Homo sapiens: one gene and its partners. The protein of the gene in region 2 purifies or fractionates together with the protein of the main gene of each other region. This does not show direct contact. Each region holds a gene or a part of one and is shown on either strand. Other genes may lie near its edges.

Region 1 (4,142 bases), on a different chromosome or scaffold from region 2:
CCCCAGCTGCCCTGATAGGACTCATCATGTGAATGAAGGAAGAAATGGGATTGAGAACAATTAGGGCAATGCCACTGGCCAAGGAGGTGCTGGCTTTGGAGGGCCACAGCCTGTGTGGGGAGGAGAGCTCAGGACTCCAGCCAGACTAAGGGCTGTGAATGCCAGGCCAGGGCCAGCCTCATCTCTGAGCGGTCAAAGTAACCTGTGCCGCAGCAGCACAGCCGGGTGATCAGGAACACGTGGAGACCCCAGTGCCCACCTGTCCACCCCCGCAGTTTGAGCCATCAGGGCCTCCACTCCTGGCCTGCCGCACTTACCTATGTGCAGGCCCTTGGCATGCTTCCTGACAGCTCGCATCCACCCTGTGGGACATGGAGGGGACAGTCAACACAGGCACGTGCGCCCAACTGGAAGACCCAGCCTACCTGAGGAGGAAAACGTGGCAGCCGCACAATACGCAATGGGAAGGGCAGGGGCGGGCAGGCAGGTGTGAGAACCCACCCCTCCCTGGCCCAGGGCTGGCTCTCCACACCCTCTTCCTGACCCCAACTCTCCACCCTTCTGGCCAAGGCCCCCTTCCTGACCCTGCAGAGCAGCTCTGAGCTTACCCTCCCTGAGCTGGGACAGCTCAGAGCCTGTGGCCGGCCAGGGGAACAGGCAGCTGCATCCTAGGGCCTGGGGACGGTCAGGGTTTCTCCGAGCTGAGGGATGGCCAGACCCGCCAGGCCCTGACACTGGCTGACATTCCATCACCTCCCCACGGTTCTCTCAGTGTCAGGGAAAACCACTCCTGCTCTCTGAACTCCAAAACTGCCTAACACTTCCCCTGCCATTTCTCTCTGTCCGAGCCCAAACGCAAGGCGCAGCCACGTAAACTCGGGCAGACGTCATCAGGTCAGGATGTGCCATCAGGAGGCAGCCTCCGCCTGAACCCCACCTTCCTCCCTGGCATTGAATGAAAATCGCTGAGAGAGGGACAGAGGAGGAGAAGCCAATGGCCCGTGCCGTTTGCTGCCCAGAGGCTGCCTGAGTCATTGTAGAGCCTGTCCTGCACACGCCTGTGTGCAGCCCGGAAGTGCAAGGGAAGGCCACCCTCACAGCCACCTGGACCACACGCAGACCTGGGCGGAACACTCTGAGGCACCAACTTGGCCTTGCAGAGGGTCCCACCGTGGCGACCACCTCAGAAACCCCCTCTACCAGGCCTGCCCTGCTCCACACTCACCTTCCCACTTAGCACACCAGCCCACACCATGGGCCTGCTCTGCCGGCTGGGCCCCAAGGGGTGAGGGCGTGGTTCTCACAGTCACCACACTCAACACTCACACCCACTGTCTCACACTTAGACATGTCCACACCGACAGTCACATTCAACACACTCACAATCTCTTCTCTCCCACATCATCAGTCTCACACTTACACACTCACATTCACACTTAAATCACGCAGAGACACACACACACTCCCATACAGAGACACCCACAGAGACATACCTACTCACACACACACACCCCTGCTCTCGCACTCACACTCTTTTCAGCCTGTGGGGCAAGCACAGTCAAGCAGGAAGGATGAGAACCTTGGTCCACGTCGTGGAGGCCCGTGACCTCAAACATCTCACGGCCACGTCTCTTCAGCTGCAGCCAGACGGGTGAGATCTGTGTGAACTTGCTCCCAAAGACCTTGGTGACATCGTAGCCATGGCTGTTCCACTGGCAAAAGATGGAGACATCAGACGGAGGACAGGTGAGTGAGCACCTGTCTCACCATGGTGCTGTCATTCTGGCGCCTCTGGACGTGCCCAGGGCTGGCCAGCGTAGACAGATACCAGCCCGGACTGACATCAGCTCCTGGCCTGGGGTATCCTTCTCCTACTCTGGACTGCCACTCACAGCCTGGGACCCAGGCCACGACATCCCTTTCACCAAAAGTGACTGGTGCTTGTCTTAAGCCCCACCTGGAGCTAGTGCACACCACTGCTGCAGGCTGGCAGCTGGGAACAGCAAGAGAAGAGGAGGCTGGGTGTGAGAACCCACCCCTCCCTGGCCCAGGGTTGGCTCTGCACATCCACTTCCTGACCCCAGACGACCTGCGAGCCCACCTCTGGATTCAGGGGGAACCCACAGAGATCAGCACAGCAAGCCCCTGGAGAGACCCCCAGGGTCTTACACTCTGACATCTCCAGAATGGCATCTCTCCCACCGTAGCCTCACAGCAGCAGCAGCTCCGGGAGATCAGAACATAGACCCCCATCACTGACTGGCCAGAAGAGGCCATCACGGGGCCAGGGCAGCCCACCTGAGCCTCAGGACCTCCCTCTGCACTGTGAGGGCCCCAACTTACTGGAGTGACATAGCCCAGTACATCCCCAGCAAAGTGTCTGTCCCGGGCCTTTGCCGAGCAGTAGCTGCGATGCTCAAGAACCACACTCTCAGCTTTGAGGTCCGTCACCACCAAACCCCGGTCTTGCACCGGCTTATCTGAAAACTGACTCTGAAATAAAAGGAGTGAGAGAAAAGCCTCAGTCATCTGTCCACAGTGTAGAGCACAGAGCCCCACCCAGCAAGTCCCTTCCATTCAGCCAGCAGCCGAGTCTCTGGATCCACACAGTGCTGCTGACCCGGAGACCCTGTATGTTGAGGATCGAGGCCACAGCAGGCAATTCAATTCAGAAGCACTCTGGCCGTCAACAGACACTGGCCGACGGTACAGGGCCTTTCCCACCCTTGCTCCGGGCTGGAAGGCAGGCAGGCAGACAGACAGTTATGGTGGCTCCCTCCTTGCATGTGAGGGTGGACGGTCTGCACCAGCTCTGGCCACTCGATACCCATCCGGGCACTCCAGGGCCATACGCTTTGCTGGACAAGAACATGCCAGGTGCGCTGGGTGCATTGGCTCACGCCTGTAATCCCAGAACTTTGGGAGGCCGAGGCAGGTGGATCACCTGAGATCAGGAGTTGGAGACCAGCCTGGTCAACATGGTGAAACCCCATCTCTACTAAATATGCAAAAATTAGCCAGGCATGGTGGCGGGCACCTGTAGTCCCAGCTACTCGGGAGGCTGAAGCAGGAGAATCGCTTGAACCTGGGTGGCAGAGGTTGCGGTGAGCCAAGATCGCGCCATTGCGCTCCAGCCTGGGCAACAAGAGCAAAACTTCACCTCAAAAAAAAAAAGAAAAGAACATGCCAGGCACACGCCACCATGCTGGCCAACCACTGCCTGCCACCGCCCCCGCCAACGTGACCCTGCTGGCCAACCACTGCCTGCCACCGCCCCCGCCAATACGACCCTACTGGCCAACCACTGCCTGCCACCACCCCCACCAATGCAACCCTGCTGGTCAACCACTGCCTGCCACCCCCCTGGCCAATGCGAGTCTTTTCCTGCCATGTCACACCTGCCCCTACTCCACCTCTGCTCCTGGAAACCTTCCATCCAGTTATCAACTTGTCTCTTCTGTCCACACTCTGTGGCCCGGCTCAGCCTCCCCTTGACCTCGCCCCAAGCGGCCCCGTGAGAGAGAGATGTCCACTGCATGGTTTATTTGCCCCCATACAGCACAGAGAAAGCATCTGCCAGTCCAGGACTAGGTCACAGTTACAGTCCTGTGGCAGGGTCTGGCCAGCGGCATGGGGACTGCTGGGGCTGAGAGGTGGTTCTATGAGTTTACACCCTTGAAGGTGCAATCCCCAGGGCCATCCCAGGGGAACGTCCCAAAAAGCATGAGGCAAACACAGCTCAAGGCCATGATAAAGACAGCAAGATGAAGATGCAGGTGATATAAACGAGAGGTAGAGCATGGAAACTGGCAACTGGCACATAAAACAAGCCCCACGTGGGGTGAGTGGGGAGGCACCCTGCTTGCCCTCAAAACCTGGCTCCAGAGGCTGCTCACTCAGAGGTGCTGACTGGCCAGAGCCCCAGAGCCACACAGGCCACCCACCGGCTGCGGGCTCATCAGGTGCCTTTGTGAGGAGCCAAGCCCCTCGAGCCTCCTGGCTCACAGGCCCCAGTGGACAGAAAGAAGAGGATGATGGATCAGCCCTCAGCCAGTACAGTCACCTCAAGTCCCCAGGCCACCCTTACCTTCTCCAGCAGCGTCTTTGAGGCGGCTTTTTTGGCATCTGACTTTGACAGGGTA
Region 2 (4,142 bases):
GCCGTACTGGGCGGTGCCGCCGCTCTCCGCACATCCTTCGCGGGGCCCTGTGACTTCGTTACCCTCCTCTTGAGGCCACGCCGCCAGGTGGCCTGAATCGAGGGTCGGGACTCCATCGTCGCGCTCTGCCCCTCGCCCGCCCCTCTCAGGCTCTCTGACTGCCACCCCTGCCTGCCTGCCCGGCCCTGCACAACATGCAGCCCTCCGGCCTCGAGGGTCCCGGCACGTTTGGTCGGTGGCCTCTGCTGAGTCTGCTGCTCCTGCTGCTGCTGCTCCAGCCTGTAACCTGTGCCTACACCACGCCAGGCCCCCCCAGAGCCCTCACCACGCTGGGCGCCCCCAGAGCCCACACCATGCCGGGCACCTACGCTCCCTCGACCACACTCAGTAGTCCCAGCACCCAGGGCCTGCAAGAGCAGGCACGGGCCCTGATGCGGGACTTCCCGCTCGTGGACGGGTGCGTAATTGCTGCAAGGGGGCGATGGGAGCTGAGCACACTCCTGGGCAAGGGAGGGTCCCAGAGTATGCAGGGCTGTGGAGGAGGCTCCCTCACACCACCCCTGGATGCCCTCTCTCCCGTCATGCATGGGTACCCTTTCCCCTCTGTCATCCCCTCTTGGGTGGGCACTCCTAGCCCGGGCCTCAGGGGATCTCAGTATAGTCATGTGACAATGAGGGATGGGGATCCCCAGATGTGTCCTTCCTGAACTGGAGGGCTAAGAGGCCCATCTGTCTGTTCTTCACCTGACCCTGGCTTGACATCCCTCCAGCCACAACGACCTGCCCCTGGTCCTAAGGCAGGTTTACCAGAAAGGGCTACAGGATGTTAACCTGCGCAATTTCAGCTACGGCCAGACCAGCCTGGACAGGCTTAGAGATGGCCTCGTGGGCGCCCAGGTACCACAGGGATACACGAGGTGCCACAGCATGGCTGCTGGGGGATGATGGGGAGAGTGGGGACCCCAGAGATCACAAGTTAGTCACATGAGAACTCAGTTACCATAGTGACCCAAAAAGTGTCATGATATGGATGCTGGGGGCTGCAGAGGCTACAGTGAGCCAGCTTGGTGGCCAGGAAGACCCTGTGGAAGAAGCAGTACATTACATGTGGCCTCCTGGCCCACTGGGTGCTCTGTCAGCTGTGGAGGCTGTGAGCAGTCCAGGGTCCTCCAAAGCAGCCCCCATCCAAGCCAAACCCTGGCCTTCCCCCCAGTTCTGGTCAGCCTATGTGCCATGCCAGACCCAGGACCGGGATGCCCTGCGCCTCACCCTGGAGCAGATTGACCTCATACGCCGCATGTGTGCCTCCTATTCTGAGCTGGAGCTTGTGACCTCGGCTAAAGGTAGGCAAGTTGATGGGAAGCGTTAGGAACTTGATTGAGCTACTCCAGCCCTGGAAAGTAATCACCTGACCTACCTGCCCCCAGCTCTGAACGACACTCAGAAATTGGCCTGCCTCATCGGTGTAGAGGGTGGCCACTCGCTGGACAATAGCCTCTCCATCTTACGTACCTTCTACATGCTGGGAGTGCGCTACCTGACGCTCACCCACACCTGCAACACACCCTGGTGAGCCTAGTGCAGATGGTGTGGGACCGCTGAGGCAGGGGCAGAGATCTGCCTGAGGTCACTGTGGGCCCAGAACAAGCTTTACCCATGGGATGTGGCACTGACTCTGGAGTGGGGAGGGGAGCTGGGATTCTGGTTTTCAGAATACGACTTGACCCCTGGCCAGACGCGGTGGCTCATGCCTGTAATCCCAAAACTTTGGGAGGCTGAGGCGGACAGATAACTTAAGGCCAGGAGTTCGAGACCAGCCTGGCCAAGATGGTGAAACCCTATCTTGAAGAAAAACACAAAAATTAGCCAGGTGTGGTGGTGCGTGCCTATAATCCCAGATACTCAGGAGGCTGAGGCATGAGAATCTCTTGAACCCAGGAGGTGCAGGTTTCAGTGAGCTGAGATGGCACGACAGCACCACTGCACTCCTGCCTGGGTGACAGAGCGAGACTCTATTGCCAAAAAAAAAAAAAAAAGAAAAGGAAAAAAAAGACTGGACCCAGCAGGGCCCTCCTGCTGCCAGGCATGGCCCATTTGCAGGGCCCATTTTGGATCCCTGTTTTTGTTTCAGGGGGGTGCAGGGATGGAGGGTGGGTAGGGCCTCTAGACTCTTGAGGCCGAGGAACAGCTACCAGTCAGACTGCTTCCTGGCCACCCTGCAGGGCAGAGAGCTCCGCTAAGGGCGTCCACTCCTTCTACAACAACATCAGCGGGCTGACTGACTTTGGTGAGGTGAGGACCCTGGTTCACACTCCACCCCAAACAAATGTGCACACCCCAGCTGTTTCTTACAAATAAATGTATACACATGTGCACCCCTGATACCCTTCTCCCAACATGTCCCTGCAGAAGGTGGTGGCAGAAATGAACCGCCTGGGCATGATGGTAGACTTATCCCATGTCTCAGATGCTGTGGCACGGCGGGCCCTGGAAGTGTCACAGGCACCTGTGATCTTCTCCCACTCGGCTGCCCGGGGTGTGTGCAACAGTGCTCGGAATGTTCCTGATGACATCCTGCAGCTTCTGGTGAGAAACTGCCCAGCCCAGGAACCTAAAGCAAGAGGTTCAAACCAGGAGCCCTTCGGCCAGGCATGGTGGCTCACACCTGTAATCCCAGCACTTTGGGAGGCTGAGGTGGGCTGATCACTTGAGGTCAGGAGTTCAAGACCAGCCTGGCCAACATGGGGAAACCCCGTCTCTACTAAAAATACAAAAATTAGCCGGGTGTGATGGCATATTCCTGTAATCCCAGCTACTTGGGAGGCTGAGGCAGGAGAATCTCTGGAACCTGGGAGGCGGAGGTTGCAGTGAGCCAAGATCACGCCACAGCACTCCAGCCTGGGTGACAGAGTAGGACCCTGCCATGGAAAACAAAAACAAAAAACAGGAGCCCTCAAACCTGAGGCCCTGCTCCCTCCACTTCTTCCAACTTCAGGCTGAACATCTTTTGCCCCACAACCCCACAGTCCACATCCAGGAGTCGGGGGTTCTAGATGGTAAATATGTATATTCCTCTACTCCTCAAAGCAAGTGCCAAGACACCTATGCCAGACCAGGGCCTAGACTCCTCCCTTCATACAAAACCAGAGAGGTGAAGTTTCTGCTGACTCCTGAAGTCAGAGCTGAACACCCTCTCCAGGGATCCAGAGGGTGGCAGGGCAGGAATGCAGTTTGCTGAGGGGCCAGGCTAAGTGTCCACTTGCCCGCCCCTGCAGAAGAAGAACGGTGGCGTCGTGATGGTGTCTTTGTCCATGGGAGTAATACAGTGCAACCCATCAGCCAATGTGTCCACTGTGGCAGGTAACTCCCTCTCCCGGGCTCTCTGAACAGTTCTGATTTGCACCTGAAGACTTGGGAGGGCCCCAGGACTGTCCCAGTGGTTTCACTGAAAAAAATGCAGTGATGGACAGTACACAGCACATTGGTCACATGGAGCTGCAGCCACAGAGTCAGTGCTGCGGTCCTGATGGGTATAAGGGAGGAAGCCACACATAGAACCTGAGTGCTAACTATCTGCGCCTCTGCAGGGGATCCCCAAAGCACCCTTCCTCGGCCTCTGGCCAAGAGACTAGAAGGGGAAGGCCCCTTAGGTCTCTGGGGTCTTTGTCAGTTGTACTCTTTGTCCCTCCGTCATCTCCCACAACCATAGAAAAGAGTTCCTACCAGGTTCTCAAAGAGACTAGAGGCAGGTTTAATCCTAGGTGGGAAATGGCCCAGACAAGTGGCTCTGTGGATCCACTCCAAACCTGAAATCCAGGCCAGAACCAGCTGAATCCATTCAGGTCAAACCTCAGGGTTCTCAGGTTGCCAAGCTATGTGGCAGGCCATAAAGGAATTAGCCTGCCTGGCCCACAGGCTGCAAGAAGGAGACTCAGTGCCATCCAGCCCCAGTGGCACCCCTGCCCTGGAAGCCCTACGCAGCTGACTGTCCACCTTCCCCCTCCCCAGATCACTTCGACCACATCAAGGCTGTCATTGGATCCAAGTTCATCGGGATTGGTGGAGATTATGATGGGGCCGGCAAGTGAGTGCCTTCCCTGTGGCTTGTCTTGGGCTAGCTGTACAGCAGTGGGGCCTTCACG
Region 3 (4,142 bases), on a different chromosome or scaffold from region 2:
CCTTGGCTCACCACGACTGCTGCCTCCCGGGTTCAAGCGATTCTCCTGCCTCAGCCTCCCAAGTAGCTGGAATTGCAGGTGCTCGCCACCACACCCGGCTAATTTTTGTATTTTTTTAGTAGAGACAGGGTTTCACCATGTTAGCCAGGCTGGTCTCGAACTCCTGACCTCAGGCGATCCACCCACCTTGGCCTCCCAAAGTGCTGGGATTATAGGCTTGAGCCACTGTGCCTGGTCTATTGACTATTTTTGATCCCTTCTTTGGATATCCAACTCAAGTTTTCCTTCAGTTCGGGAAAGATTTCTCCCACAGCATCTTTTGAAATCTTTTCCATTATTCTTTTTCTTTATTCTCACCATGATTTCCTCTATTTAAAAAAATTGTAGTGTTTGTTTTTGTGAGGTCACACCCAAAAATGGGAGGGCTTAAATAAGAAAAGCCCAGTTTCAACAGATGTGCTGACCACAGCTCAGCTTTATTTTTTATGTATTTATTTATTTATTTTTTACTGCTCTGTGCTCTGATCGCTTCTTGTGCACACCAGTTACCCATATGTTGGATCCATATTAACTGGCTCCACGTCCATCCCCTTCTCCATTTTTTTATATCTATGGTGATATTGTTTCTTTTTCTTTCTTTTTTTTTTTCTGAGATGGAGTCTCACTCTGTCGCCCAGGCTGGAGTGCAGTGGCGCGAGCTCGGCTCACTGCAAGCTCCGCCTCCCAGGTTCACGCCATTCTCCTGCCTCCGCCTCCCGAGTAGCTGGGACCACAGGCACCCGCCACCATGCCTGGCTAATTTTTTGTATTTTTAGTAGAGATGGGGTTTCACCGTGTTAGCCAGGATGGTCTCGATCTCCCGACCTCATGGTCCGCCCGCCTCGGCCTCCCAAAGTGCTGGGATTACAGGCGTGAGCCACCATGCCTGGCCGGTGATATTGTTTCTTTACATTATTCTCTTAATTCTGCTACACTTTCTTTCATCTCAGTCTATGATCCTATCATTAATTTGTTTTCTGGAATCCATGTTGTCTCTGCAGAATCTTTGTGTAATTTCCTTGTGTGGTATAGTTGCTGGGCGTTCAGACTTCCTTAAAAGCATGCTCTTCAGCTATCACTGCTGAGTGTCAAAGAAATTTTATAAATCTTTGCTTATTGTCCTGTTGTTTTCTTTTCAATTACTCATCCTGAGTCAGGGCTGGAGTGTCCAAGTTTGGGTGTGGGTGGGCCTCCTGGGAGCCTCCCTGCTTTGGGGACACAATGAGAATCATCATCTACACTGAAGTGGGGGATTTTCCAATGAGGTTCATTTTATCACTGGGAAGGGCAGGAGGCTGTGGCTAAAGTGGCAACATCTCAGGGCACATGGTCTGGGCGCAGTGTTTTCTCGGCCAGCACGACTGCCCCAGGGACCAGCTTCTGCACTTGACCTGGGCTCTGGCCAGATGTACATTCTAGGTCCTCAGCACCATGGGGTCTGCTGTCCTCCTCCTGGACATAGGGTGTGTGCCTCAGTCACGAAATGCCCTATGGTTCAGGGCATGAGCCAGACCCAAGGAAGAGGCCCTCGCAAAAACCTCACTCCCTCAAGACCCTGATCACTAGGATGCATGAGTAGCCCTGGCTCCTGTGCTACCACCAAGCTGCTCTGCTGAGCAGGGTGGATGGGGCTCTCCTTCCGTTTTCTGGGGGACGCCTTCCCTTCCAAATTGGGCGGGGTGAGCTGGTGAGGCCCTGCAGAGTGCTCTGGGGAGAAGCAGCACCACTGCACTTTCTGTGGGTGGTGGGGGTGCCTGCCCATCCCGCCCAGTTACACTGCCTCGGAGAACCACTGATCAGCAGTGGGTGGGGGACACCAAGCAGGCTGGTGCTGCTCTCCTGTGGCCTGACTTCCACAAGGATTAACCGCAGTGGGACTTGTCAAGTGTCAAGGCTTAGTGCCTGCTAATAAGCTCCCAGTAACTGCTCTGATGTATTTGGTCCTATCTAACATTAGGCTTGGCACGAACTTACACTATGCCAGAGGATGTCTTGGGTTGGGGGGTCCAGTTGACTTCAGAAATCACTGTCTTTGCTGTACACCCTCCCCTGGCATGTCCAGGTTGGGGGCTTCAGGGGCTCGTGACTGGACCAGGCCTCACCTAGAGTGGGGGACCCCCTGGAAGGCCCAGCTTATGTCTTAGACTCCTGCCTGCCCTTGGAGGCCTGGGAGGAGACAGGGATTAGATCCTCTCTTCTGCTCCATGCCTACTGCATCCCACTGCAGGGGACCCGGCGCCCTGGGGCTGACCACAGACCCCTGAGAACTGCCACCAGGAGCTGCAGACCTACCAGTCTTTCCCCCATGAGAGGGGGCAAGGGTGTCATTTAAGAGAATCACGCGTGGAGAACTGTCCTGGCGACCCATGCAAGTGACACAGACCTGTGAGCTGGCCTGAGGGGGTGACTGGGCGAACAGGAGAGCCTGAAACCCACCAAGGACAGCAGGTGCAGCAACCTTGGCCCTCTGCCAATCTGTGGTGCTCCAACGTGCTGTCAGCTCAGTGTTTCCAGATCCTCCAGTTTTTCAAGTGATGCCAGAAGTCTGGACTTTTATGCACAGTGGTTCTCAACTTTTAAGAACATGAAGCAAGCTGAGTTGAGGGCTCTCCACCTGGGAAGAGCCCCTGGGCTTCGGGCTGCGGCCCCTACTTCTCCAAACCCTAAGCCCCTGGCTGCTGAGGTCTCCCGCTGGGGCCCACGGTGTGTCTGGTGGCACCAATCAAGACCAGTACAGCCCCTGCCCTCACCTGGACCACTCTGTGGGGAAAAGACAGGTTTAGCTGCATAAGGACAGAACCCATCCTTGCCTGAAGGGTACACCCTTCTGCAGCATTTCCGTCACTTGGGGAGGAACAGTGCCCAGGCCCCTCAGTCCCTCACGCGGCCTCATCCCACTCATGGGCTGGGTTCCAAGGAGCCAGCAGCTCTCCTGGTTAAGTGCCATCGTTTTCCTGTGCACTCCTGGGAGGCCAGCACCACCCTAGGACCAGGCTGCCTGCCTCCTGACTGAGGCCCAGGCCACTGGCAGAGCTCTGGGAGAGGGGACATCCGCATTCTCTTGGGAAGATGAAGTAGGCTGAGAAGTCAGTTAGAGGTGGGCGCGGAACCTGCTTTGGCGGGCACTGGCCCTGACACAGCTCAGGGTGAGGTGGAACCATGGGGACGGGGAAGCATGCCACATACCGTTGCCTTTGTCTGAGCGCTGAGGGTGGCTGTTGACAGCACTGGGGACCCCGTGGGTGGCCCAGCGCGTGTGGGCAATGCCGAAGTGTGTCTCAAACTCCACTTTTAAGTCCATGCTGTCTTGTTCTAAATGAAAGGAAAATCAGTTTGCCGCACTTGAACAACAAGCCTCGACCCAGGACTGTGAGTGCAACCTGGTGTCGTTACCCAAGTCACGTCACCCACACCGATGGCACCTCCCCACCAGCTCCCACCCTGGGAGTCCGCGCAGGCCCACAAACCACCCGTGCTGAAGGTTATTTACTACTTGTCTGTAGCTTAGCTCACTTCTTCACAGAAATAAACTTGCTTTAAAAAGAAAATGATATATCCCTACCATAAACAGAGAAGCAGTATCATTTGCTGGAATAATTAAAATAACTACTGTATGTAACCCTTCACACTTAAAAAAATTATCCATGCGCCGCCACCACCTAAAATAAACCATCCCATACCCTGCGAAGCCCGGTTTTACAGCACGGGCTTAGCCCTCCCTCTGTTTATCTGAGCTGGGACAAAGGAGAATCTCCATTCTCCGGCGCTGTTGGAATACGGTCCTAGAAAGCGGCCGGCGCTGCAGCGGCTCCTCCCACTCAGAGGTCCTCCACTTACTGTAAAGTTCTTCATCGAGAGCCTTGACTTTCCCCCTTTTCTTGACCAGCTGAATGTGTCTTTCTTTGACTTCGTGATTATTCCCATCGATCGCCACACCTGTGATGTAGACAGCATTTGTTATATTGCAACCAAAGCTTTTTCTCACACACTTGGCACAGGTGCTCCGCAGGGTCAGGGCTGCATGCCCCGGGCTGTCCGTTTATGGCAGGTTGGAGAGCTGTACAGTTTTCAGGAAATCTGCTCTGAAAGAGGCTGTGACTGCG
Region 4 (4,142 bases), on a different chromosome or scaffold from region 2:
TGTGTAGTGAAAAAGAAATACTTGCATAGAAAACTGGGTACAAGGTGATAAAAGATGCTATATAAAAAAATTAAGGAATAAAAAGCAACACAGGCCAGGCACGGTGGCTCATGCCTGTAATCCTAGCACTTTGGGAGGCCAAGGCAGGAGGATCACTTAAGGTCAGGGGTTCAAAACCAGCCTGGCCAACATGGTGAAACCCCATCTCTACTAAAAATACAAAAGTTAGCCAGAAATTGCTTGAATCCAGGAGGCGAAGGTTGCAGCAAGCCAAGATTGTGCCACTGCACTCTAGCCTGGGCAACAGAGCAAGACTCCATCTCAAAAAAAAAAAAAAAGCAACACATACTACAAAAAACAAAGTTAATAAAACACTCCATAAAAATAATTGTTACTTGAATTTCATCTAAGAATGACTAATGAAAGTGTACAACAGCTTAATTAGGGTAAGAGAACTGACAGACCAGAAAAAAAATGTTTGTGATCTAAGCAGCACTATCTAATGGAAACAGTTTGGAATTAAAATTTACAAACACTGCAAATCAATTGAAGCAGTAACTTTGAATCTCTGTTCCCTTCTATCGAATGGCAATAACAATGCCCACTGTAATTACTTTAAAAAGAAACTTTCTGAAGGTGATAATAAATAAATGCAAACTTAGAAAATCTGAAACACCACGAAAATACAAGATGATGGGATTTAATTATCATCTTCGTCCTGAAAACAATTGATGCCATTAATAAGTTATTCCCTAGAAGAGTAGAAAATGTAAAACTTAAATTCTGTCTTTAAAAGGGCTTTTCTTTCCTCAGTGTTTTCAAAGGGCCATTAATGGTCAAGTGATTAACTCAAATGAAGAAGAAAAAGAGAAAGAAGGGTAGAAAAGCCAGCTTAAACATTTCTTATCAATGGTGGCGAGGTGGGGAGAATACACAGGGTGAGGTAAGGTTGACAAGAGTTTTCACTGATTAGCAGTGTAAATCTGAAGCTGAGTGACTTAATTTCCTATGCCCGCAACTCTCTCCTGATAGACTCCATTTCCCTCCAAAAAGTATGTCCAAGAACATCATCAGAATCCCCATCCTCAACATTTTTTTTTTTAATGACTGGAAACACTGCCATTAAATAACTCTCTGGGACTTCAAAATTAAGGTTTACATCCATGCCAAGAAGTGCTAAAATATAAAGGATTGAGTTTGGGAGAGAGGACAGAAAGATGGATGGAAAGGAAGAAAAGAGATAGAGGAAAGGAAAAAGAGAGGAAGGACAAGAGACAGAAAAAGAAAAAAGAGAGAGCGATACAGAGGGAGAGGTATCAGAGGAGGCAGTGAGAGGGAGACAGACAAGAGGCTCAGAGGAACCAATCAGGAGGATGGCCTTTGGATGCACTCCCTATCCAAACTGTACTTGAAGGGCAGTTGATTCACGGAATGTGACCTTGACAACCAAGGAGGGGCAACCTGCCAAACAATGACAAGTCCATTTTTCAAACCCTCCAAATAAACTAACTTGTTTGTCTGCTTTCAGCACTGACCTTTCTAAGATAAAGCATGTTTAATATATTTAGCTGACTCTGAGTTGACCAATGAGCCTTCACCAAAAGGAACTTCTGAAAAACTATCATACATGTATATAGAAATAAATGTGTATGAAATAGTACTGAATGTTATTTCAAAGCTACAATTCCAGTTTCAGATTTACTTTTCATTTTTTAAAAAATGCTTTTTTGAATCAAAAGAAAAACAAAAATGCCAGTCAACAACTACTGTAAAACAGAAGCAGTAACTACAATTTCCACATATTTTCCCTTGTCTTTCATAATGCTCTATGAAACATCATATGTCCTTAATCAGAAGTAATATAGGATTTGCTTTCTAAATAACAAAATTATAGCCTAGTTTTATGTCCCCTAATATACATGTATATTATTTATGATGAGAAAAATCAGCCAATATAATCAGAGCTACTCTGAAGTTTATAAAAAATGAGCTGGCATCATTTTGTAAAGTGTTGTGAAAAGGGTTAAAATGGTAAGAGTAGAAATGGTACATGAAGTTTTAAAAATACACACAGGTTGGGACAGATTGCAAGTGACCTTAATCCATGTTAAGCGGTTTGGACTTTCTTGCTGGCAATGGAAGCTTTATTATGAAAATTTTTGCAACAGAATACCAGGATGAAAAAGGATGTTACAGAAAGATAAAATGAATAGAAACAGACAAGATGTTCTGCACGTTTAAGAGCCAAATGATGGGCAGAGGGATGGGGGAGGACCTGAGTGCCACTGACTATGCTTGTCATAACTACACTGAAATAAGGAGTAGAAAGCAGAGATGGAATCAAGAAAACCTTAAAAAGGAAGAATTTCTAGGAGCTTCTGCCTGTTGACTAATCACTGACTGATATTAAGGTGGTGAAGTAGGAGAAACACAGAAAAATAGAACATGAGAGGGAGGAATATGAAAGTATTTCCAAGGTGACAGAGAAAATGATGCCAGCATTAATAGAAACAGAGGTGCAACTAACATCTCTTGGTGAAGACTTTTTAGTCAAATTGAGTTAAGACAGGCTAGTCAACGAGAAATGATTCACAGGCCAGGCCACTGGAATATCAAGTCAGAGATCTACTTTTAGATTTAAGATACAGCCAGGGCAAGAGTTTTATTTAAAAGGCTTTCCAGATATTGCAAACATGAAGTTAGGACTGAGAACCATTGAAGGACCTTCTGCTTCTAAGGCATACACATCTACACATTGCCAACTGTAAGATAAGGCTCCATTAGCGTTTAATGGGGGGAAAGGCAAGAATCCAGTGTCATTCATTATAGCATTATTTTAAAATAAAGAAATACATAAAATGAGAACTGTATAACATATATTTGAAGAATGAATTTTAAAATTGTTCAGTTATTTTCTTTAAAAATTCAATATTTGAATTAATAAAAGTGGGATTTGAATTTTACACCCTGTCTTCGGATCCTTCCCTTCCTTACCCTCTACTCACACCAACCTACTCAAATAACTAGACTGCAAACGGTTCTGCCTCCATTTCCTCCTCATCTGTAAGAATGAGTATATCTGCTTCCCCTTACTTCCCCCCGGTGGTGTGGGCTATAGAATGAAATGAGATATAAGTGCTTAGCAAATTATAAAATATGTTTACCAAAATAAGATGTCATCATTATAATTAAACCTAGGATGTAATTTTTAATTTTTCCAATTAGTCTCCACAAGAAAAGTATGACTCTAATTATTAGCCTGCATACAATCTTTAAATTTTATGTAAGTTTTACAACATAGCATAAATAAATGCTTATAGAAAAAAAAACAGAATGCGAATGTTTTTTCATAATTTTGAAAATCACTATATTTGTGAATTTTTACTTCGAACCTGACTCATTTCTGGAGTGATTTTTTGAGGGGCCGCCTTAACATTTTGCTTAGTACTTTGTCCTTCCCTTTAATAAATATTGATTCATTAATTTTCACAACAAAACTATGAACTATGCAGATAATTCAATAATAATTTTCTATAAAGAGAAAAATTAGGCATAAAATAATTCTACAGCTTCCCCAAGGTATGTGGACACCAAAACTGGAAAAAGCAACAGGAGTGGACGTCACAACCACTGCTCCTCACAAATCCTTCTCCCCTCAGAAGAAAGGCGCTCTTGAATTGACAAATACTTTTTCATTATGTGGCTTTTTTTCTTTTAAAAGTTTATGGTAATACCAAATAACAATAAATCCAACTGGTAATATTGGAAATGGCATCCCAAGTACCTTGGATTCCAATGCTTGTTAAATTTAAAGTGCCCTTCTAGAAAATTCAGCAAAATTTTACATAAATTTTTGTTAAATCTGAAAAGCTCAGTAAGTAAAAACCTGTGTTTATATACGTTTTGTTTAAAAAGAAAAAAGAAAAAAATTCAAGGTTGGTTTCCATTTTTTAAGTTACCTATACCTAGAGCTCTGTAGTCTATCGGTAACAAAGTTGCTGATGAATATTTCAAAATATTATATGCAACCAAACCCAAGTTCAATTTTACTTTATCATTAAAGGTCTATGAGTGAAGTCATGTAAACCTGTGAGGTCATAACACATTCATTGATTATAATGACTGGCCAAAGATTAGTCACC
Region 5 (4,142 bases), on a different chromosome or scaffold from region 2:
AGGGAGCTGTACCCAAAACAGAGGGAGGGTCAGCCTGCCCCATGAGACCCCACCAACTTCACCTACGACACACAATCCTGCCAGCAGCCAACACATGCCCAGCAAAGTGCCTGACCCTGGCCAGGTCTTCCAGTGGAGGTGGTGTCTGAACCGAGTCCCCAAGAGGAGGAAGGACACAGGGCCAGAGGCATGCTTGCTGTATTGGGAAAGGCAAGGCGAGGGCCCAGCAAGAGGCAGCAAAGCCCTGGCTCTGATGGGAAACAGGACACTGGCTGATGCAGCCGGAAGTGGGGATGTGGTGGCAGGTGATGCTAAGTTAGTTCAGGCCAACACACTCTGGGGGTTCAAAGGCAGACTAAGAAGTTTTGGACTTGATCCATTCATTCAAGTCTGCTCCAGCTATCCTACCCGCAGGGTATCTCCGCTGTACCTGGGCTCCCTTCTGGGTGTGGGGAGACAGGGAGCTCACAGTCACTGCACTCGTGGGCCAGATGGTGCAGGAGCAAGGGATGCGATCATGGGGAAGAAAGTTCCCGGGTGAGGAGTGGGAGGGCGACTGAGGAGGGGGCCTCCAGAAAGCTGTCTGGAGAGGCCTCTTGAAGTAACACTGGTGCTTCGAGCCCCAAGATGAAAGTCCCTGAGGTGGGAAGGAGTTGGGAGGCTAGGAGGAGCCCGGCCTCCTAGGACCTGGGGAGGAGGTGAAGGTCTGGGCAGGGAGTGGCCTGGAAAGGTTTTTTTTTGTTGTTGTTGTTTGTTTTTTTGAGACGGAGTCTCGCTCTGTTGCCCAGGCTGGAGTGCAGTGGCGCTATCTCTGCTCACTGCAAGCTCCGCCTCCCGGGTTCACGCCATTCTCCTGCCTCAGCCTCCCAAGTAGCTGGGATTACAGGCACCCACCACGCCCGGGTAATTTTTTGTATTTTTAGTAGAGACGGGGTTTCACCATGTTAGCCAGGATGGTCTCGATCTCCTGACCTCGTGATCCGCCCGCCTCGGCCTCCCAAAGTGCTGCGATTACAGGCGTGAGCCACCGCGCCCAGCTGGAAAGGTCATTTTTAACAGCTCCCAGTTGCTGTGAAGGGAAGGCCTGATAGGGGCAGAAGTAGACCGGGAGACCTGGAAGAAGGTGTGGGGTCACCTAGGCCACGGTGGGGTGTGAACGGGCGGAAGCCCCGTCCAGTGCCTGTTTAACCACCTCCAGCTTGTGGAGGCCGAGCGAATGCGGGTGTGGGGTCCGGGCCGGGGTACACTCACGCGTTGCGCTGGCACCGGGACTGGATGCAGATGAGCAGGCGCAGGTGGTCCCGGGGGCGCGGCGGCCCCCTCCTCGGCGGCTCCCCGAGCGCTGCGGGGGAGGGTGGGACGTGGTCAAGCGGGCGGGCGGCGGGGTGGGCGACAGAGCGGGCGATCCTCCCACGCCCCGGGCCTCACCCACGTGCAGCGTGGCGGCGAGAGCGTAGAAGCCAGCCACGGGCGCCCTGTACTGGCCGCTGGTCAAGTTCAGGCCCGGGCCGCGGCGGAAGGCACCCTCGGCGTCGGGCTGCGAGGGGCACGGATGGTCACCCCGGCTCCCGCCCGGCCGGACTCACCCGCCCTCCCGCGCGCCGGCACTCACCAGGTAGTAGACGCCAAGCTCGTGCAGCGCGCGCCGCTCCACCAACGCGTCCCGGCGCAGGCGGCAGAGGAAAGCGGCCTCCACGCGCGGCGCCCGCGGCCCCGGGGCCAGGGGCGCGGCCAGCAGTGCCAGCACGTCCCCCACCACGTCGTCGTCGTCCTCCCCGGCGGTGGCCGAGACCGGGGCGAGGCTCGCAGCGACCGGCCCGGCGGGGCCACACGTACAGGGTTCGGGCTCCGCGCGCTCCCGCTGCCGCACCGCACCTGGCACAGAGCGAGCGGTGGCCGCGCGCCAGGGACCCCTCACCCGCCCGCCGCGTGGGTCCAGCCCTGAACGACAGGTGCTAGCGAGACCAGGGGCCTGCCGGGCGCAGGGGTGGGGCGAGGGCGACGTCCCCTCGGCCTGAAGGGCCTCGGAGTCTTTGCGTCCTGACCCTGCAGCGGCTCCCGTTTCCCTCAAGATTTGGGAAGCTCGGGCAGAAGTGCCCCAGCGCCCTTGGCCTCCAGCCTCACCTCTACCCCACCCACATTTTCCAAAGACGCTGGGGGTAAAATAAGCGATTGCAGCTTTACTGGAAGTACAAGGAGGTTCTTCAGCGCAGAAGGTGCTATATTTAAACGAACAGGACATTGAACTAAAAGGAAAAAACGGCTCAATTCTAATGACTAATGTGAGCCGCCGCTCTGCAGGAGGCCTCAGTGTGGACTCCGCGGCTCCACTCAGCCCTGCCTCCTCCAGGGCAGGCTGCCCCAGCCCTGGCCAGTGGTGACTGTGGGTGCCAGGCTGAGCTCCACCTGGTGCTGCCCCATACACTAGCCTCTGCCTTTCGCTGGGCTCTCCTGACTTCCAGGCAGGGCATAGGCGCTGGTCCCTGAGCACCCGCCATACTGAGTGGCCAGGTCCACCTTCCTCTGTGAAGCCTTCTCCTGGCCATGGTTCCCAACCCCCAGCCATCCCCAGCCCTGACCCTTGGCAGACATGGGCCAAGATGGGGCAGAGACTGGACCTGGCCAGCTCTACTGTCCTTGAGTCCAGCCCAGAGCAGGTGCCTCCTTGGGTGCCCGCCGAAGTGTTGAGGTTGGCCCTGTCAGCTCCTCGGGACACCCTCCCAGGCCCTGCTCACAGCGGGGTGTGTGTGTCCCAGCCGGTGCACACCCCTACCTTTCAGCAGCAGCTGGAACTCCTTCAGCAGCGCCTCGGGTGGGATGATGGGGCCTGGGGGGCCCTGGGGACCGGGAGGCCCAGGGGGCCCTGGCAAGCCGAACTGAAAGGGAACCTTGGCAGTGAGGACATGTGAGGAGCAGGCTGGGAGCCACAGCATCCCCTGTGCAAGCTCTTGCCACTAAGAGGCAGGCAACAGAGCTCCCCAGTGGGCTCCAACCTCCAGCCAAGGATCTACCTCAGTGAAAGCTTCTCCTGGAGTGAGTACAAGGACTGTGCTGGAGGTGGGGGCCCTCGGGGCGGGGCTTTGGCAGGGAAGGACTCTGCTCTGAGTGGGGAGGCAGAGGGCTGAAGCCCGCTCCTGCGGCCAGGCCTCGTGGAGGGAAGAAGACTCTAGGCTGCTTTTGGGGACTTGCATCTCAGGGTCTGCACTGGGCCCGAGTCCACCATCAGCAGGTCCCCACTAGGCTGGGTTGGGACCCGAACCAGAAGCCAGTGAGCCCCCTGTGGGGAGAAGCTTAGGGCAGGGCCAGGAGGCTGGGCAGAGGTAGAAGGCCAGGCCACGAGGACAGCGCGGCCTGTGCACCTGCCTCATGCACTCCGAGCTGGCCTTCCATCGTGTGTTCAGATCCCAGGCAGGTGATACTGGCCCCCAGGGGACAGAGAAGCCCACACCCCGTATTTTCCATTTTGGGGGCTCCAAGCAGGAGGCAGCACCAGGACCAAGCACCAAGTTTCTGCCCAGGCCAAGACCTAAGGCTGAGTGAGGGTGAGAGGGACCCTGTGCCCCTAGTCCCTGGGAGCCAGGCACTCCTGCAGGCCCCTCCAGTGTGGACAAGGTTCTCACCACAGCCTGGGCTAGCCCAGCCTCCCTGGCCTGGATGCAGAGGGAGGAGAAAAGAGGGAGAGCCTGGCATTTTAGGGGTGTGGGGAAATGGTTGGGACCAGGCCCCTAACTCGGGGCTCCCCCTGGGGCTGCCTGGGTTCTCTCTGTTCTCTGTCCCCAGGCCGAGGCGTGAGGGGTGTGCTATTGGAAATGTTCAGGATGTAGGAGTGGGAGTGGATGAGGAGCGAGGAGGCGGAACCCCCCACGGCCTGGCACTGACGGGATGCCGGCCTCACCTTCAGCTTCTTGGCCTTGCCCCTGCTCCTCTTCTTGCCATTGACACCCTTGTCACTCTGCCTGACGAAGAGCATCCAGGCGTCCCGGGGGTCGACGCTGTGTGCACGCTCAGCGGTGGGCTCCTGGAACACAGCCAGCCCAGCAGGGCGGTTGGCCTCACTGGGCTCCTACCAAGCAGGTGGGACACTTTGCAGGAGGTGACTGTGTGGCCTTCTGTACTCTGGGACCCTGGTCCTTGTCACCTGT
Region 6 (4,142 bases), on a different chromosome or scaffold from region 2:
AACGGAAACAAAGGCCGGCAGTGCCTCTCCTCATGGAACAACTCCTCCAGCTTTCCCAGCTCTGCCCTTCAACTTACTAAGAAAATATGCTGAATGCCTTTCAGAGTGAGAGAGCATCAGACTGAGATTCTGATTTAAAAAACAAGCACAGATAAAGCACAAAGGAAATCTTCTCGAAACAAAGCCTATAATGGTAAATATGTTCAGAATAGCTTTTCTCCTGTAACATCGTGACCTGCATCTAAGCATCTAATAGCCTCCACCCATGCCCTTGCAGCAAGAATCAGAATATTTGTTCCTGTTTTAAAGGCACAAATGGTCCTAAGAGCAGATTTTCAAAAATGGGAGGAACAATAGCTCCAATGGACCAATTGCAGCATGCAGATATCTTGACCTTTGCAGGTGGTGTAGAATGATGTGGTGCCTACATATCTTTTGGCATCTACTCTTTCGAGATGCTACCTCCCCACTCCTCTTGCCTTATCAGTCTTCCATCACAAGCCAGACTAACTGAAATTCTCAACAATTTCCAACCTAGAGAGGGCGATAATCTGACGGCATGTACATTGGTTCCAGACAACTAGGGCAAGACACATTCCTCCCTGAAAGCACCCCCTTGGTCAGGCTCATCATTTATTCGTCACTAGATGTAGCTTTACTGCCAAAAGACCTACTCTTGTTTATTCCCCTCCCTCTCTACTATTTATAGTTGGTCTAACTTTTTACAAGCTTTGAATAAAACAGAGAATGTGACCTAAGATGTGTTATTAAATGTCCATACACATAAGATGGGGGAACAGAGAGTCACAGATGGTGACAACATGGGTAAAAATTCCTATCTACTTGGAATAAGGGCAGAATCAAATTTTACTCTAGTTTCATTGAGATGACACTGAAATGTCAGTAGCAACAGGCACATTCAAGTGTACCCTTCTTCCAAGCAGATCAGGCCAAGCAATTCTGGCCATTGGGACGTCCATTATACTGCTCACCTGGAAAAGGCAGCGCCCAGCACAAACGCAGCATACTCCTTCACGAGGGGCTCTGTGCTGTTCAGCCCATTGATCACCACTTGAAGACCACCAAAGGAAAGCAGGTCCTGCGCATTGTCCATCTGCAACAGAGCCACTGCTTAGTACAGCATAGCCATCAGGGACAGGAAAGCTGTTCTTAGAGCCTTTCTTTTGGTGACTACCCAAAAACAAATTAAAAAGCCATGGAAAAATCAATAATGGCCTTTTTGACTAAGAAAAGGTTTGTAAAAACCAATTTTTTAATACTCTTAAATTTGAGAACTCCTAATTCATCTAACACGATTGATGAGCACCTGCGTGGGAATCAGCAGAAATGACACCTAGCTATTGCTTATGCCAAACATGTCCTGGAAAATTCTAATATCATAATGAGTCACAAAGCTTGCTCCTAATGTACAAGCTGTTAACACAAAGAATCTGGCGTCATCAGCACCACTAAATGGTGCCATGCTTCCTGCTGATGTCCAATCCCAATGGGGACAGTGGAGGCAGATTTTTAAAGCTGATTTTAAATTAGAAGCTAGGGACTATAAAAGGAGCCCTGTTATTGGGAGGGGGGTTGCCGTAAGAGTGCTGGGGAGGGGGGAATAACAATAGTACCTTTCTCTTGCATCTCAGGTTGACTGCATCTGAAGACATTCATGATAAAATATGCAAGAAAATCGCTCTCCCAAAGGTTTCTGTCTAAGCCTGTGCTACTGGCTAGTGGCTATGTATCAGACAGTGCAGAACATTTCTATCATTACATAAAGTTCTATTCAACAGCATTGGTCTAGGCTATCATTTAAGCTCCAAATCCCCAAGTCCGGATTCTCTCTTTTACTCTATAGCGGATCTCATTACCCACAGTTTATTAGTACCCTGGAACAAGACAACTCGCTTTCCTCAGAAAGGTCACTGGATCCTGTTTTCTACATGTACCCGCTACAGTCTCCCTCGAATATATCTTTGTTGCCACAAAGGCTGCATCTTGCCCATATGCTAATCCCACGCTATCAATCATGAGGAAAACTCAGGAAGCTGAAGCCCAACAACTGTGGCTGCTACCCATCTTTCTCCTCCAGATTCCACAGGGCCCCTTCCCAACTGCATCCTTGCCTCTCTGAACTAGGAGAGGACTCTGACAGAGAAATCAAGTGTGAGGATTGGTATTTGACTGTGCTAGTGTTTTGTGGTGGCCTAGCCTGTTGTTGCCACTTGAAAAATCATATTCATACACATTTGGATGGAATCTCCATGACAGCAGGGGTTTTGTCTGTCTGTCCACGCTTGTAGCTCCAGGGACTAGGATGGTGCTGAGCATATGGTTAGGTGTTCAATGAATAACTGTTGCATTAATGAGTATGAATTTGATCAGAAAAGAATGTTCCTGAAATAAAGCTCCAGTGTGAATAAAAAGGCAATCTGGGGTATCTGTGCCAACAAAATGAATGGGCCTCTGGTACCGCAGACATGAAGTAATGGCTAAACCAGGTTGTGAAGTAAGCATGAAGTCTGCTCTGCCATGTGGCCCCAGGCCATGGACATTTTTCTGCCCCAAACTGTTCTTATGAAGAGGAATAACTGGTTGAGCCACAGCCCAGCTAACTAGGGAGACTCAGGGTTGGGTGCTTTGCTGACATAAGCACCTTCCTTCCTTCCCTACATGCTCTAATTTTACAATGTAAGAATTCACTACCTATTCTTTGGTTGTCCTTCCTCTGGGTTTTCTGGATACAAAACTATGGCTCAGAATCCTGTCATACCACGCCTGGAATGGCCACTTATAAAGCTGGTATGAGTTCCTAGCAGAGCAGCTGCCACTCGGTCAGCTCCAAAGCAACACAGCCCAGAATCATGGACCTTCTGTTCTAGAGTCAGTTTATCTACTATTACTACAATGATAATTCAGCATGATAGAAATGCAGACATTTATATAAGCACTTCAGCCTTTTTGGGATGTTTTCTCATGGTTTACTTCACTAACAGTGAGGAAGAAACGATTCATTCTGCCCAGTGCACATCAAAAGCTGGGCCCCCCCCTGGTGACATACAGGAGAAACCATGACCATAGCCCAGGTCCACAGCTCCCCATCTCGGTCTGGGGCCAAAACTGTTCTCAGGCTGCCTTCGGGGTGGGGTGGGACAGGCAGAGAGGAAGAGGAGGAGGGAGTGCAGGAGGGAACTATGCCAACACCCTGGAGGAAAGGAAAGAAGCAGGGCACTGATAAGACAATGAGAGAATGGGAAACAGCGAAGGGGAAAAATGGTGGCACACAGCTGAGGAGACACGTGGGAGAAGGCAAATGTACTGCCCGAGGTAGATGGGGCGGACGGAGGCCGCTCCTCATAAATAACTCACCATCTGTTTCCACACACAAGGTTTTGCTTTTCACATATCCTGTTTAATAATTCAAATATGGCTGTGAGGAAGCCTGGCAGACCTGGTTTGGGTCCTTGGAGCCTACAGCTCCTCAAACCACCATTCAGTGAGTCTGGAATGAGAAAGGACTGGGGAAGTTCCTGGCTAGGAAAGTGCCATCTTCCTTAAAACTAGTACTACATCACCCCAAGCCCCCATCACAACTGGGACTCGGGCCGAGTTGTGTCTTACTTAATCCCCCAGTGAAATCACAGCTTAACATTGCTGCATGGCAGCCTGATGCACCAGCCCTTCCAGTCAAAACACCAATGATCCAGAACATTTCTCTGCCAACAGACAAATTTGGCTTCTGCCAGGGACTGATTTTGGGATGACCTCAGGATGGGTCTGGTGAGGTGGCCTGTGAAAGCAGAATGGGGATGTCACCTTAGGGAAGACACTGCCAAGTGACAAAGAGCCTACAAGGGAAAACAAAGAACTTTGTTGGGGCAATGCTAGCCCAAGCCTCCTGTGGACTCACACCCTTCCAGGTATGATAAGCTCTCCAGTCATTTTGGTGTTTCATGTGCAAGAGCCCATGGTGACCTGATACCTAAAGATTCATCCAAATATGTTAAGATGAGAAAAAATAGAAGCTGTCAACATCAAAGGAGGACTGAGTTGGCAAATAACCCCTTATATCCTTAATCCTTTAAATATCTCTAATGGAAAAGCTGTTGGAGTTCTTGGTTTTTACCCTGGAGAGT
Region 7 (4,568 bases), on a different chromosome or scaffold from region 2:
TATTTTTAGTAGAGATGGGGTTTCACGATGTTGGCCAGGCTGGTCTCGAACTCCTGGCCTCAAGTGATCCGCCCGCCTCAGCCTCCCAAAGTACTGGGATTACAGGGGTGAGCCACTGCTCCCGGCCCCTCTATCCCTTTTCTTATCCTGTGAGCCCGGGGGCAGCCTTCAGCAGAAAGGCCGTTCACCTCAGAGACCAGAGCAGAGGACTCTACCTGAGTCCTCTGCACTCAAAATTAGCAGAGCATGGTGGTGTGTGCCTGTAATTCCAGTCACTGGGAGGCTGAGGCAGAATTGCTTGAACCTGGGAGGCAGAAGTTGCAGTGAGCTGAGATCAGGCCACTGCACTCCAGCCTGGGCAACAGAGTGAGACTCTTGTCTCGAAACAAAACAAACAAAATCAGAGTCCTCTGCACTGGGAGGAGGCATGTGGGGGGACCCATGCCTGCACTTGGTAGTGAAGAAGAAAGGGAGACACCAGGCCCATGTACCCTTGGGCATACTAAGAAACTGGCATGTGTGGGCAGCAGCCCTCTCTCTGCGCATGCCCAAAGGTGGAGGTCTTTTTGGAAAATGTTGAAAGGACAGGTGGGTAGGGGTGTGGATGACAAATGGAATCTGGAGCATGATATGGGAGAGACCACAGCAGAAGGAAGATCCCCGCCGGGGGGAGCTCCATGGTGTGCATTTTGGCTTTCAGGGTATAAAGGGGGAAACAATAGGGAAAGACTTGGTGCAAAAGGGAAGGAACAGAAACAGACAGATGAGAAAAGGAAGATGACAGCATTGCAAGTGTTTCTTTCAATCCTTGCCAGGCCAGGCTTTGTTTAGCTACCCTGGTCTCTTCCTGCATACCCCAGCCCCCGTTTATAGTACCTGGGGAATGGGGAGCAAAGAACAGGATCAGAGCATGATCTGAAAAGAACACTGAGCCTTCTCCCTGCTGGAACCCCCACCCCACAAAAAAGGTTGATGGATTGATGGTCCAGTTGTTTATTTAGAAACCTGATTGTTCAAGAACATGGTGGGTGCTTCACACCTTTTTCACTGGGATTGTGCTGGAGGTGATAGGCAGCATTCTACCATTTCCTCAGCAACAGAGGTGAAGGCTCCTCAACTCAGAAGCACAAATTGTAGGGGACAGGGTGGGCAGGGAAAGGGAGAAGGAAATCCCAAGGCAATTCAATAGAAGAGGGTAAAACGACTCCAAACATCACTAAGGGCAGGTGGGGGCCTGCTTGCTCAGTGCCTGCTAAGTGTCCTGCCCTCCTTGCTCTCTCTACCCACCTCCACTCAAAAGATCCTACTGAATCTCCAGGTAGGCAGCAGGGAATATCCTATCATTAGGGGACAATAACAGGAAAAGCCACAGAGGAGAGGAAGAGGATTGAGTGAGAGTTCAGGAGAGCAAATATCACAGGCCCGGTGAGGTCTCAAGGTGGCTGCCAGCAGGGGCAGCAGCATTCACCCAGGGCCCCCACACCCACAGAGTTGCCCGAGAGGTCCACAGCTCAGCTCCACTCTGCTGTTTGGCCCTCAGGGGTTCCAGGGTGGGGAGGTGGGGAGGAGGCAAGCCAGTCCAGGAAGAGTCTGGATTCCGTGAAGGGTCAAGTGTAGTGTTGGTCTCAGAAGTCAAATTCGTCCAGGTCCCCTGTGCCCTCCCCACCTGGAGAGCCCCACACCCGGCGGTAATTGCTCTCCAGCTCTTTCTGCCGCTGGCGTTCCTTCTGGGCCTCTTCAGCTCCCGGCACCTGGTGGGAGAGGGTAGAGGTGGGCTGGAGCTACTGGCCGTTGAGCCCAGGGAAGTCCTGGGCCAGGCAGCTGGGGGAAGGCAGGGAATGAGGACACCCATGTCCTGAGGGGCTCTTCCTGCATGGCAGCACTCTGAGCCACTGGAACCCCAGCCTTGTCTTACAGATCAGGAAATGGAAGCTCAGCAATGGCGTGGCTGGGGCAAGCCCGCACCTCCACTCCAGGAGGGCTGGGGGCCAGGACTCGGGGGTAGAAGCCTCTTACCAAGATATTGAAGAAGATCTCCTTGAGGTTTCTCGTGTCCTCATCAGTCAGCCAACGTGCACCCTCTTCAGTCCCTTCAGCCCATGGGCGGACAATTTTGATCTCAATTTTCCCTGGAAAGGAGCAGTATGCAGTGAGAGGAGAGGATGGTTGGGAGCCTCAGGGCAGGCCCCCTGCCCCACTGGTCCCAGCCCCTCCACTTCCGGCAGCTTGCCCTTCCGACAGCACTGGGTCCAGCCGCCCTCCAGGGCCCACCTGCAGCTGTGAGTCCCTCCCTCTCCAGCAGCTCCTTCACCAGCCCCTCGATTTGTTTCAGCTGTGGGTTTTCCCGTTTCATCTCGAGGACAGTCAGATCCTGATTAGGGCCTCCGAGACGGAGCTTGGTGACCCGGACCCGGACTCTGTGCTCAGGATCCTCCTCTTAGAGGGGGAGACACACAGGGAAACACAAAGCAGAGGCGTGACTCCAGGGTTAGGGGTGTGGGGGTCATCTCCCCCTAAAACATCAGTTGGCTTTGGCAGCTCTTCCATCTCAACATGTATATGAGCCAGGGCTCAAAAAAATGTGTGCCCCGCCCCTCCCAGTTCAGCCTGTAGAGCTCCCTCCACCAATTGCAGCCTTCCATCTTCCCGCCCTACCCAATAATTCTGCCCGTCACCTATAGGAAAACAAATGTTTTCTAAAGCCAAAATCAGGCCACCTGCACCAACAAAGTTCTGTTTGAAGAAGCAGGTTGGAAAAGTGTGGTCTCCTCCTCCATATGTTGGGACTTTAAAGACATTTCAATGTTTATAGAGAGAGTGGGAATGGAAGGTTTGAAACTGGAACATTCCATTTAGAATATCTGATGTCCACACCCATAGGACACTATGAAATGGACACAAGGGGATACAAGAAGAAGAAATAATTTAAAGTCTATCCAAGCTATTGGCTCATGTGCAGCTGGGCTCTCCTATTCATGCCCTGACAGCTGGGGCCTCTCTTGGTGCAAAGTCCTAAAGTGGTTTTCAGCATATAGACTCACAAGCATTCAATTACTAGCTACTGATCATCCATTGTGTGCCAGGCAGAGTGCTAGGCACTGGGTGTACAGGAGCAAACCAGAAAACCAGCAGATATGCTCTAAAAGCTGCTTCCCAGAGGGATGAATAGGAGGTAAACACGCAAAGGGATGATGGTGTTGGGAAGCAGGCGCAAGTGAGGACAGTGTTCCAGAAAGTGGGGAGAGAATGAGCACCCTCAGAAGGGAAGGAACAGGGTCCCCTCTGGGAACAGAACCAGCTGAGGGATGAAAACAACAGACTGGGCTACTCTTTCTTGTCTGACTGCTCTCACCTGTAGGTTGGGGTGATGGGGGAGGCTTTTTGGGGACAACCCTCTTTTTCTTGTGCTTCTTCACCAGCTCTGGACTCTGTTTTTCCTCCAGTCTTTTGATGAGTTTGTTGAGAGTGGATGTGAGAGCCAGCATTGCCCGATCCCGCTCTGACTCCTTCTTCAGCCCATCTGGGTCCAGCTCTTTCTCTGTCTGGAATACCCAAGAGAAGAGAGTGAGTCAAGGGTCTGGGGTGTGGAGGCAGCCAGCGGGCTGGGCTCTGTAGGAGAGTCTGATATTTTGAAATGGAGTTTTGCTTATCACCCAGGCTGGAGTACAGTGGTGCCGTCTCGGCTCACTGCAACCTCCGCCTCCCGGGTTCGAGCGATTCTCTTGCCTCAGCCTTCCAAAGAGCTGGGATTACAGGTACCCACTGCCATGCCTGGCCAATTTGTTTGCATTTTTAGTAGAGAGGGTTTCGCCATGTTGGCCAGGCTGGTCTTGAACTCCTGACCTCAGGTGATCCGCTCACCTCGGCCTCCCAAAGTGCTGGGATTACAGGCGTGAGCCACCGCGCCTGGCCAGAGAGTCTGATATTTAAGTCTTGTCCCTCTCTCTGGTCCCCCTTCCCCAACAGCCCCGATTAATTAGGGAAACAGCTACCACTTCCAAGTGCCCCGTCCTTGCCCTGTGCTGTGCCCTCTGTTTCTTTTAGCCCGTCAGCCTGTCCTGCTCCACGGGACCAGGCGGCTGTGGAAGCAACAGGAGGAAGAGCTGGGCTTGCCTCCTGGATGATGTTTTCCAGTTCCCGCTCCATGCCAGCCTTCACCTCCGAACGGAGCCGGTCTCGGTCTGACGGAAGCAGGATCCCTTCCAGTTCCTTCTCAAATTCTCCCAGTAACTGCCGTTCATCCTCATCTTCATCCTCATCCTCATCCTCATCCTCCTCTTCTTCCATCTCTCTCTGCCGTTCTGGATCACCCCTTTCCTTCTCTGGTTCCCTCTGAGGGACTTCTGCAGCATCATCCACAGGCTGCTCTTGGCCTATATTTGGCTTCCCCTGGGTGGGTAGGGAGTGGGGAGAAAGACAGTTGGGGTTTCAACAGAGACACATGGTCGGGGGCAGACAAACAGTAGCAGGTGTGTGGTACTGGGGGACCCAGGAGTTGAGTCCCAGGTCAGGGTAGTTTTTCAAATGCTCGCAGTTGGGAGGTGGGTTCTACCCATTCCCTAAGCACG

The links.
Region 1: the proteins of DPEP2 (region 2) and CHID1 purify together in Homo sapiens (affinity purification with mass spectrometry; one large-scale study listed by BioGRID and IntAct). This does not show direct contact.
Region 3: the proteins of DPEP2 (region 2) and GFPT2 purify together in Homo sapiens (affinity purification with mass spectrometry, with the first as the bait; one large-scale study listed by BioGRID). This does not show direct contact.
Region 4: the proteins of DPEP2 (region 2) and ITGAV purify together in Homo sapiens (affinity purification with mass spectrometry; 3 studies listed by BioGRID and IntAct, with this or other methods). This does not show direct contact.
Region 5: the proteins of DPEP2 (region 2) and ERFE purify together in Homo sapiens (affinity purification with mass spectrometry; one large-scale study listed by BioGRID and IntAct). This does not show direct contact.
Region 6: the proteins of DPEP2 (region 2) and SIL1 purify together in Homo sapiens (affinity purification with mass spectrometry; one large-scale study listed by BioGRID and IntAct). This does not show direct contact.
Region 7: the proteins of DPEP2 (region 2) and OS9 purify together in Homo sapiens (affinity purification with mass spectrometry; 3 studies listed by BioGRID and IntAct, with this or other methods). This does not show direct contact.

What each region holds. Positions count from the first base shown.
Region 1 is NC_000011.10:900,619-904,760, forward strand, and holds part of CHID1 (chitinase domain-containing protein 1 isoform a precursor), read right to left. Parts: coding exon 4,088-4,142; intron 3,161-4,087; coding exon of another isoform or gene 3,086-3,160; intron 2,494-3,085; coding exon 2,344-2,493; intron 1,713-2,343; coding exon 1,580-1,712; intron 363-1,579; coding exon 318-362; intron 1-317.
Region 2 is NC_000016.10:67,989,265-67,993,406, reverse strand, and holds part of DPEP2 (dipeptidase 2 isoform 1 precursor), read left to right. Parts: intron 1-12; exon of another isoform or gene 13-149; 5' UTR 150-194; coding exon 195-457; intron 458-770; coding exon 771-897; intron 898-1,213; coding exon 1,214-1,343; intron 1,344-1,427; coding exon 1,428-1,569; intron 1,570-2,222; coding exon 2,223-2,292; intron 2,293-2,409; coding exon 2,410-2,586; intron 2,587-3,275; coding exon 3,276-3,360; intron 3,361-4,008; coding exon 4,009-4,084; intron 4,085-4,142.
Region 3 is NC_000005.10:180,332,603-180,336,744, forward strand, and holds part of GFPT2 (glutamine--fructose-6-phosphate aminotransferase [isomerizing] 2), read right to left. Parts: intron 3,976-4,142; coding exon 3,877-3,975; intron 3,352-3,876; coding exon 3,226-3,351; intron 1-3,225. UniProt on the Homo sapiens protein: Controls the flux of glucose into the hexosamine pathway. Most likely involved in regulating the availability of precursors for N- and O-linked glycosylation of proteins.
Region 4 is NC_000002.12:186,592,649-186,596,790, reverse strand, and holds part of ITGAV (integrin alpha-V isoform 1 preproprotein), read right to left. Parts: intron 1-4,142.
Region 5 is NC_000002.12:238,161,470-238,165,611, reverse strand, and holds part of ERFE (erythroferrone precursor), read right to left. Parts: intron 4,019-4,142; coding exon 3,896-4,018; intron 2,877-3,895; coding exon 2,774-2,876; intron 1,876-2,773; coding exon 1,613-1,875; intron 1,538-1,612; coding exon 1,429-1,537; intron 1,343-1,428; coding exon 1,252-1,342; intron 7-1,251; coding exon 1-6. UniProt on the Homo sapiens protein: Iron-regulatory hormone that acts as an erythroid regulator after hemorrhage: produced by erythroblasts following blood loss and mediates suppression of hepcidin (HAMP) expression in the liver, thereby promoting increased iron absorption and mobilization from stores.
Region 6 is NC_000005.10:139,020,179-139,024,320, forward strand, and holds part of SIL1 (nucleotide exchange factor SIL1 precursor), read right to left. Parts: intron 1,115-4,142; coding exon 993-1,114; intron 1-992.
Region 7 is NC_000012.12:57,717,967-57,722,534, reverse strand, and holds the end of OS9 (protein OS-9 isoform 1 precursor), read right to left. Parts: intron 4,390-4,568; coding exon 4,114-4,389; intron 3,543-4,113; coding exon 3,353-3,542; intron 2,437-3,352; coding exon 2,272-2,436; intron 2,130-2,271; coding exon 2,017-2,129; intron 1,752-2,016; coding exon 1,626-1,751; 3' UTR 978-1,625; downstream 1-977. UniProt on the Homo sapiens protein: Lectin component of the HRD1 complex, which functions in endoplasmic reticulum (ER) quality control and ER-associated degradation (ERAD).